Linked DNA regions of Homo sapiens. The protein of the gene in region 2 purifies or fractionates together with the protein of the main gene of each other region. This does not show direct contact. Each region holds a gene or a part of one and is shown on either strand. Other genes may lie near its edges.

Region 1 (4,541 bases), on a different chromosome or scaffold from region 2:
TGAGCTGGCTTGTCATTAACCCCAGAGACTAAGTGTGTCTAAAGCTTGACACAAAGTAATATTTCGGGGGTACTTTCAAGTCTTTCAACAGAGAAGTAGGAAACGATAATTTTACCAAACTTAAACCGTTAGATTATAAAGATCTAATAAAGACAGGAATCAAATATTACATTATATGTGTACGGCAACAGCAAGTCATTTAGGAGGCAAATATGTGTTTTTACATATTTTTAAAAATTATACCAGTAACAAAATGAAGGCCTTAATGTGTGTGTCCCAGCACACAGCTTGACAGGCAAAGAAGCAGCAGCAAGTGACCGTTCTAAGAAGCCTTGCAAAAGACCTCCTGGTTTTTTTCTCCCTGGCTCATAGGGCTAATATTTGGTAAGATGTGCTTTGCAGAGAAAGAAGGGGGTGGGGGAAGCTGTCTTTCTATACACATATTAATATACCTGGGAGCCAACGTGCCCCTGTATCAACACATTTTCCAAGCAGTGACTTCTCCCCTTCCTCTCTGATTCATTTTGTACCAAAACAATGGCAACACCTGTAGCCGTTAATTTCTGCGCTTTGATTTTTGTCCAGTTATAAAGGAGGCTCCCAGCAGGCTCCCCTCTCAGGAGCCATATGTGGAGTTGATGTGCCAGCCGCCTTGGAAGGGAAACGGCCTCCGGAGAAGTGCACAATGGCTCCATAATCCCCATCAACTGGACCCTCTTGAACTGCCTCTTTATTTTCCAGTCAAAGAAATGCCAATCTCAAGATAAAAGCTGTGGCTGCCCTGGGAGCCCAGGGGAAACCTGTATCGCTTGCCTGGTTCAGCCCCAGGGTGGTGACTCTGAGTCCCGCCATCTAGTCTCGCAATCTGGAGCCCAGAAACTGCCTGTAGCACCCCCAACACTTTCCCTTGCACTCCCCTCTAGGATGAGGCTTTTACCACAAGGCCACCTCCCGCCCAGCCTCTCCCGGCGGCTGGCGACCACAGCGCACCCTGAGCAGAGCCACGGCACCGCCCCCTCGCACCGGCTCACGCCAGGGGTTCGGTTCCAGCGCAAGCCTCTGTTGCAGGCTGGCATTTCTCCACGCTGAGCGGGCTAGCAACTCTTCAGACCACAGCACTTGCGTTGCCGGTGGGGGGCGGAGACAGGGGGCCACAAAGGCTGGGGTGTGGCAGGGAGCCCTTTAGGTTCAATGGCTTCTCTGCCGAGGGCACTGTGTTGCTAACTGTTGACCAAGAGGGTCAGACCCACACGCCTGCTGGGACTACACGGAAGGGGCACAGAGAAGTCTGGAGAAGCGAATGGGAAAGAGGGGCTGCGCGAGGAGACTCAGCCCCAAACAAGCGTCCCCGTTTGGACAGGGAAGGATGGCAATGGGATGCAGCCACTAGAGTTTTGAGTCTAACTCCAACCCTCCCCGCCCCCCTTTTTACACTCTCCCTTTGGGGACCTCAGGCCGTGCTCCAGGTCTCGGGGACCGTCCGAGAGGAGCCTTCGGACGGCCGCCCGCGGTGTGAACCTGAGACCTGGTAAATGTCACCCGGCTGTACCCCCGCCCCGCCGCTCGCCCCCAGCTCGTTCTGCCTCGGCGGCGGCGGCGGCTCCCCGGCAGCAGCGCTCTCCGCGGCGCCCCGGGGGCAGGACTTACGCAGTGGCTCTCGGCCGTCTTGAAGTCCCAGCTGACCCTCTTGGCGCGCGCCTGGATCTCACTCATTCTGAAGAGGCAGAGCGCCGTGGTGGTGGGGGAGCGCCGCTCCTGGCCCTCTCCAGCGGCCGCGCTGAACACTCCCGCCCAGACGTCCAGGGCCTCCACTAGGCTGGAGGAGAGGAGCAGGCGGCGGCCGTCGGGGTGGCCGTGGCCGCAGTCGAGGGATGCCTGGCCCTGGAACAGCACCTCGGTGCTCTGCGCGATGCGCGCCATGCTGGGCCAGCCGGTGGCAGCGCCGCTCGTGTAGTTGTAGGGGTAGTAGGGGAAGTAGATGCTGCCGTTCCAGAGAAAGGCGTCCACGAAGTGCAGGCTGCCCGCGCCCTCGCACAGCTTGAGGCGCCCCAGCTCCTGCGTGGCCAGGCTGCGCCCCTCCGTGTCCTTGAGCGCGATGGCCGTGTCGTGGTCGGATGCCGCGGGGTTGCAGCGGCTCGCCGTCTCCGGCTCAGGCAGCACGTAGGTGGCGGCCACCGCCAGGTACCAGCGGTTGTTCCGGCCCGCGCGGTACACCACGCCGGCCGTCGAGCCCTGCGGGTGGCACGACACCACCTCGGTGCCGTTGCGCAGGGAGTTGCGGCTCAGGTTGCCCAGGGGCCGCACCTCGCAGGCGCCCCGGTCGAAGGTCCAGCCGGTGAGCAGCAGCCCCCCGAGGCCGGCCGCCCCCTCGCGGTAGGGCAGCAGCAGCTTGCTGAAGCTGCTCCCGGGCCGGGGCCGCGCGGGGGGCGCCAGCGAGACCGGCTCTGTGCAGTTGCCCGCTTGGTCCCGGTACAGGCGCGAGAGGCTGTGCTCCAGGCTGTAGTCCAGCTGGTCCAGGCAGCTGCCGCTCGCCACAAACACGCCGTCCTCCTGGCTCGCCGCGATGGCTCCGATGGCTTGCTCCGACCGCCACACGGGCTCGTCCGCGCCCCGGCCGGGAGCCGCCAGTGCCAGCAGATAGGCGAGCAGGGGCAGTGGCGCTGCGGGGCGCGGGGGGCGCGGCGGCGCCTTCCTCCGGGAGACCTCCATGGGGCTGGGGGGGCCGCCCCCGGGCAGGGCGCGCGGCGGCGACGGCGGCTCAGGCGCGCGGCAACGGAGACGCGGGCGGCGGCGGCGGCGGTTCCTGCGCGCGCTCGGGCTCCCGCGGCCGCCCCATCCCCGCAGCTCGCCCAGGAAGGAGAGCGGGGAGGGCGGCGCGCGGCAGGCTCGCTCCGGCAGCCTGTGCAGCGGCGGTGGCGGCAGCAAGCCCTGCGCGCTCCGGCACCGTTTCCTCCTCGCCCTCCTTCGCCGGAGAGTTCCTGTGTGCAGCGCTGGCGCTCGCGGGGAGGCGCGGAGGGGAAGGGAGGGGACGGGCGGAGAGGAGCGAGGCGGGCGGGGAGGGCTGGAGAGGTTGGGTGCGCTTGTGCGTTTCACTTTCCCATTGTGAAAGTGGGATGCAACTGGCCCCCTTCCTCATCCTCTCTTCCTCCTCCGCCCTCCGCCTCCTGCCCGCCCGCCCGCCCTCCCTCCACGCCCATCTCCCCTCCCCTCTTGATTCGGTGAGATAGGGAGGAGGGAGGTCTCGTAATTTGGGTTACTGTGTAGGTGGCCTCTTTCATCTATTCATAACAAAGCTCAGCCGCCCGCCGCGGCCGCCGCGGCCGCCACCATCGCCCCCTTGGCTCGCCTGGGGCTCCCGGGGCGCGCTAACGGCGCACGGAGCGGGCTCCCGCGCCCGTCCGCCCGCGGTGCTGCTCCAACGCCCGGTTTTGTTTACGACAGCAGCCGGGTCGGGGATACGCCAGGCGCGCGGAGCGAGGATCCAGGGTGCGAAGGGGTTGCAGCTGAGGCCCCGGGCTCGGGCCACAGGGCTGCTGCGAGAGCGGCTGACAGGTGTGGAGCGGCGAGAGGGAGGCCCCGGGGAGGCGCGCGGGAGACATGGCCGAGCCGGAGACTCCGGGGACCAAGGCGCCCCTGTGACAGGGTGTGGGTTTCCCCGGGTCGGATGAGTGAGGTGGCAGAAAGGCAGGCGCCACACTCTCGTTCTGGACAATCCCCAGGGCCGGAGCGCCCATATTTGCAAAGGTTCTCTAATCTCCCTTGGCAACAGAGTCCCAGGCTCTCAAGCCTAGCACTTGGAAAGTTCTGCTCACCATCTAACCTAATGAGCGGGGCTAACATTTACTGAGCACTTACTACGTGCCGGGTGCGCTTGTGAACTCACCACATGGGTTAAGACTCATAATTCTCATAACAGCCCTATTAATTAGTGACTGTTATTGTCATCCCTACTTAGTAGTCCAGGAGAATGGTTATAGAAAGGTTGTGGAACGTGCTGGCATTCTACTGCTGGTAGATATCAGAGCCGAGATTCGAATCCATATCTAGCCCCAGGGCCTCTTACATACCTGGCTCTAGTTAAGTGCCACCTGTGGCCATTGCCATAATCCCCCAGAGATCATTCTCTGTAGTGAGACTGAAAAGTTCCTCAAGTTAAATGCACCAACCAGCCCCCGCCCTGCTTTCTACTATTAGACCCAAGTCCCCGTATTTCCCTCGAGGCTCTCCATCTGTCTCATCATTACCCACTTTTATCCTTTGGACCCCCTGAGGTCTCACCACCTCACCCAGAGGGTGAATAACAGCTGGGTTGCCCCCACAGCCGCCAAGAATTTCTGAAGCACAGGGAATCATTGCCCACTGGGGAATAGGTTCATGATTTCTCGGAATGGGGCTTCCCAGAGGATGCACAAATGCCTCCCAGCTTCCCGGGGCAGCTGCGGGCACCATCAGCACCCTTACAGTCTGGCAGATGAGCCAGGGGGTGCATAGGAGTGGAGGGTGCTGAGGACCTCTATGGATCGTTGGGAAATGATCTCTGT
Region 2 (3,811 bases):
ACATCTTCTTCTTCTATTTTGGTATGCTCTAGGACATGTACCTCTCTTTCAGGTAGTAACCCATATTCATTTAGGAAAGACTCCACATCCCCAGCAAAAAATTCTTCAGCAAACTGTTCAGCAACACTAATAAAATTGCTTATGAGTTCCCCACCTTTATAGATGAGCAGTGTAGGAAGTACATCTAAGGAAAAGCGGTCCCCAGCACCTGTATTCGAAGCTTTTATTTTACAAAACTTAACTATAGGGTATTCTGCTGCAAGGCATGTTAAACTACTGTTTAGAGCATCACAACCCTTAATACCATCTTCATAAATGTGAACAACAATTGTGGTGATCTTCAGTTCCTTTTCAATTGTTTCTAGGAATTGCTTTCCAGTTTCCAGCTCATACACAAACCCATATCTAGGCCCAAAACTCAGCTTCTGGTGCATATCCTGCATACACTGTCTACGGTATTTACGAAGGCAGTTTTCATCCTCTTTCTCTTTATGGATTAGTTCATATTCTTGAATGCTCATCTGAGAATAAAGAAATGATAGAAATTATTAAGTCAGAAGTTTTATTCCTTAGATATACCAAGCCCATTCTCAACCGAAGGAGTGTACTTTTGCTCTTTTTTTTCTGCCTGGACCACCTACCTTTCACTCCTGATGTGCCTTTCTCTTTCACCTCATTGAAGCTTTTGTTTAAATGTCACCTTCCTTGATTACTTTACCTAAAAAGGTCCCCATCTCACACTCTCCATCTTTATGCTGGTTTATTTTCTTTATAGCAACAAACACTATTATATCTTATAACTTACTGATTTTTTTGAATATCCAAAAAATTCAAGTAAGACAGCTTTTCCTACTATTTGGAGTTCATCAGATCATCCAAGAGGTTAATTTTTGGACCAGCAGCATCAGCATCACTTGGGAACTTCTAGGAAATGCAAATATTTGGGCACCACCCTAGGTTTACTGAATTAGAACCTATAAGAGTGAGGCTAAGTAATCCATATTTTAACAAGCCCTCCAGGGTATTATTATTCACTAGTTTGGGCTGAAGTAAGAAAAGGCCCAAATTCCATTTTCTAAGATAGCTACTTTTCATTGCAGTTGGAATAAAAAGTCACCTGCAGGGCCTTCCATAATAGCTACTCCATTATTAATGTATTTAACAGAATATTAAGCACCTATTCCCCCAACCAAAAAAGAAAAAAAGGTATAAAGGAACAATGGGGCATAGTGTGATTAATAGATGTGGAGCAGCTCAGAACCATGGATTTTTAAAGTAGAGGAGAATTGAGAACACGTGAAACTAATGTTTATGAAAAACATACCAGGTGTTGGGTACTTCACGTAGATTATGTTATCTAATCCTTACAGATAACCTCTGAGGTAGGTACTATTAGTGTCATTTTACAGAAGACACTGAGATTTAAGTTAAGTAAAAGTTTATGATGCTTTCATTACTTCTTTCTTTTGCTTCTGTTTCTTATATTTGTTTCCCTAATGTCCTCATTCTTTTCCTTATCATATTTTTTTCTGTTTTAAGATTACTGTCCCGGGATGGGTATGGGAGCTCATGCCTGTAATCCCAGCACTTTGGCAGGCCAAGGAAGGTGGATTGTTTGAGCCCAGGAGAACAGACTGGGCAACATAGTGAAACTCCATCTCTACAAAAAATGGTGGCACATGCCTGTAGTCCCAGCTACTTGGGAGGCTGTGGCAGGAGAATCGCTTGAACCCAGGAGGTAGGGGTTGCAGTGAGCCAAGATTGCGCCACTGCACTCCAGCTGGGGTGACAGAATGAGACTCTGTCTCAAAATGATAATAGTAATAATAATAATAATATTGTCCCAATTTAGTTTTAATCCTAAAAATTTCCAATGTTTCATATAATTTTTAAGTTGTTGCTATAGTTCTGTTAATTTAACAGATCAAACCACACAAATTTGACTTGAAGATGTATTTGAGCATTTATATGAAAACTTGTTTCATTCACATATTCAGGCATATGGATATGTAGGCATTCAGATACATTTCCAAAGTTTAACCTTAGCATAAAATTTTTAATAGTGATTATGTGTTACATTTGTGTAGTATTTTACATGTTTCAAAATAGTTTTACATTTATTTTTTCTTTACATGTTTTCAAAACAAGTGGAGCAGGTTTGTTACAATTCCCCAGATGGAATTCTCTGTATGTTGCTTTCTCATATTGTGAAACTATCTCTAGGTCAGCTCATGTATTCGTAACGAATTCTTTTCATAACTGTACCTGTTCTTAGTATAGAATGCCACAATAGGTGTTCACTTCATTTCCATTTTTTTTTGCCAGCGTAAGCAATATTGTAATGAATATATTTTGTAATAGTCTAAAGTGATTCTCTAGATTGATTTAGATTAGAAAACACATTGTAAATTATTTATTACTGCTTTTTGTATTATCTTACCTTTCTGCTGACTCGTTCCTTTGAATCTTTGCCATTCCTACTCTGAGGAGAAGACATTTGCCTGAGAATCTCCTTCTTGCTAGGTGGAATTGAATCACTGTCTTGACTCTCTAATTTAAACTTTCTCCAATCATTTATTACTCCTTTGGGTCCTGGAATGAAATTAAAAATAAATTGTTTTCCTTTTTATTTTCAAAAGGACTGTTGGCATAATTGAAATTTGTGTAAGTATTGTCATGGAATAAACTTATTGTCTCCTGCATCAGAAACAAACATCTTGTTTGGACTAGAAATTTCTGACTGCCCTGCTCATAAAAATATGCTCCCACATTAATCTTGTTAAATGGGTTTTGGTAAAGGATATTTCGGAAACATTTGTACTAATGAAAATATAAATTATGCACTTTGAACTACTGGCAAAAGGTTGGGGTTAATATATTTAAAAATTAGAGTCCTGATAGGATACTAGAATTTTGGAAAAAATAGCACTTTTATTACCTAAGAAAAAAACTTCAGCAACAAACTAAAATTGGCATTACAGTATTAATAAAGGAAACTGGGAATGTTGGGGAAACAAAATAACAATAGTATATAAAAAACAACTGGTGAGCAGGGGGCCTGACCTCAACAAAACTAAAATGGCTTTAGGAAAATTATTACGAGAACATCCCATTCTTCTAAGATTCTAGGCATATTTTGCAAACATAGAAAGAATAGGATTGGCAGATTATTTTTTTTTTTGAGATGGAGCCTTGCTCTGTTGCCCAGGCTGAAGTGTAGGGGCGTGATTTTGGCTCACCGCAACCTCCACTTCCTGGGTTCAAGTGATTCTCCTGCCTCAGTCTCCCGAGTAGCTGGGACTACAGGCGCATACCACCACGCCTGGCTGATTTTTGTATTTTTAGTAGAGATGGGATTTCACTATGTTGGCCAGGCTGGTCTTGAACTGCTGACCTCAAGTAATCTGCCCACCTCAGCCTCCCAGAGTGCTGGGATTACAAGTGTGAGCCACTGTGCCCGGCCAGATTGGCAGATTTAAGTAAAACTAATTAAATGAAGGATGATTCAACTGGAATTCTGATATTCAGTTGACCTGATGACTAACAACGTTATTCATTTAAGAAAGTCTTAAATTCTTTAAAACAAGGAATATTAAACTGACTATCCTTCACTAAAGCTTAGCTATATCTACACCTTTAATGTCCATATTCTATATCATATTCTATATGTGGATGTATTCCTTCTTTCTCCTCTATATTGCCTAATAATTTTTGTTTTATATATGATATATATTTAATATAAATTTGTTATGAATGTGTTTATATTATATGCAGGCAATCAAAGCTTTTTGTTTTCACATACAGTGTTCAT

The links.
Region 1: the proteins of PDC (region 2) and PLXNC1 purify together in Homo sapiens (affinity purification with mass spectrometry; one large-scale study listed by BioGRID and IntAct). This does not show direct contact.

What each region holds. Positions count from the first base shown.
Region 1 is NC_000012.12:94,147,140-94,151,680, reverse strand, and holds the start of PLXNC1 (plexin-C1 precursor), read right to left. Parts: upstream 3,105-4,541; 5' UTR 2,710-3,104; coding exon 1,648-2,709; intron 1-1,647.
Region 2 is NC_000001.11:186,443,986-186,447,796, forward strand, and holds part of PDC (phosducin), read right to left. Parts: intron 2,593-3,811; coding exon 2,441-2,592; intron 522-2,440; coding exon 1-521. UniProt on the Homo sapiens protein: May participate in the regulation of visual phototransduction or in the integration of photoreceptor metabolism. Inhibits the transcriptional activation activity of the cone-rod homeobox CRX.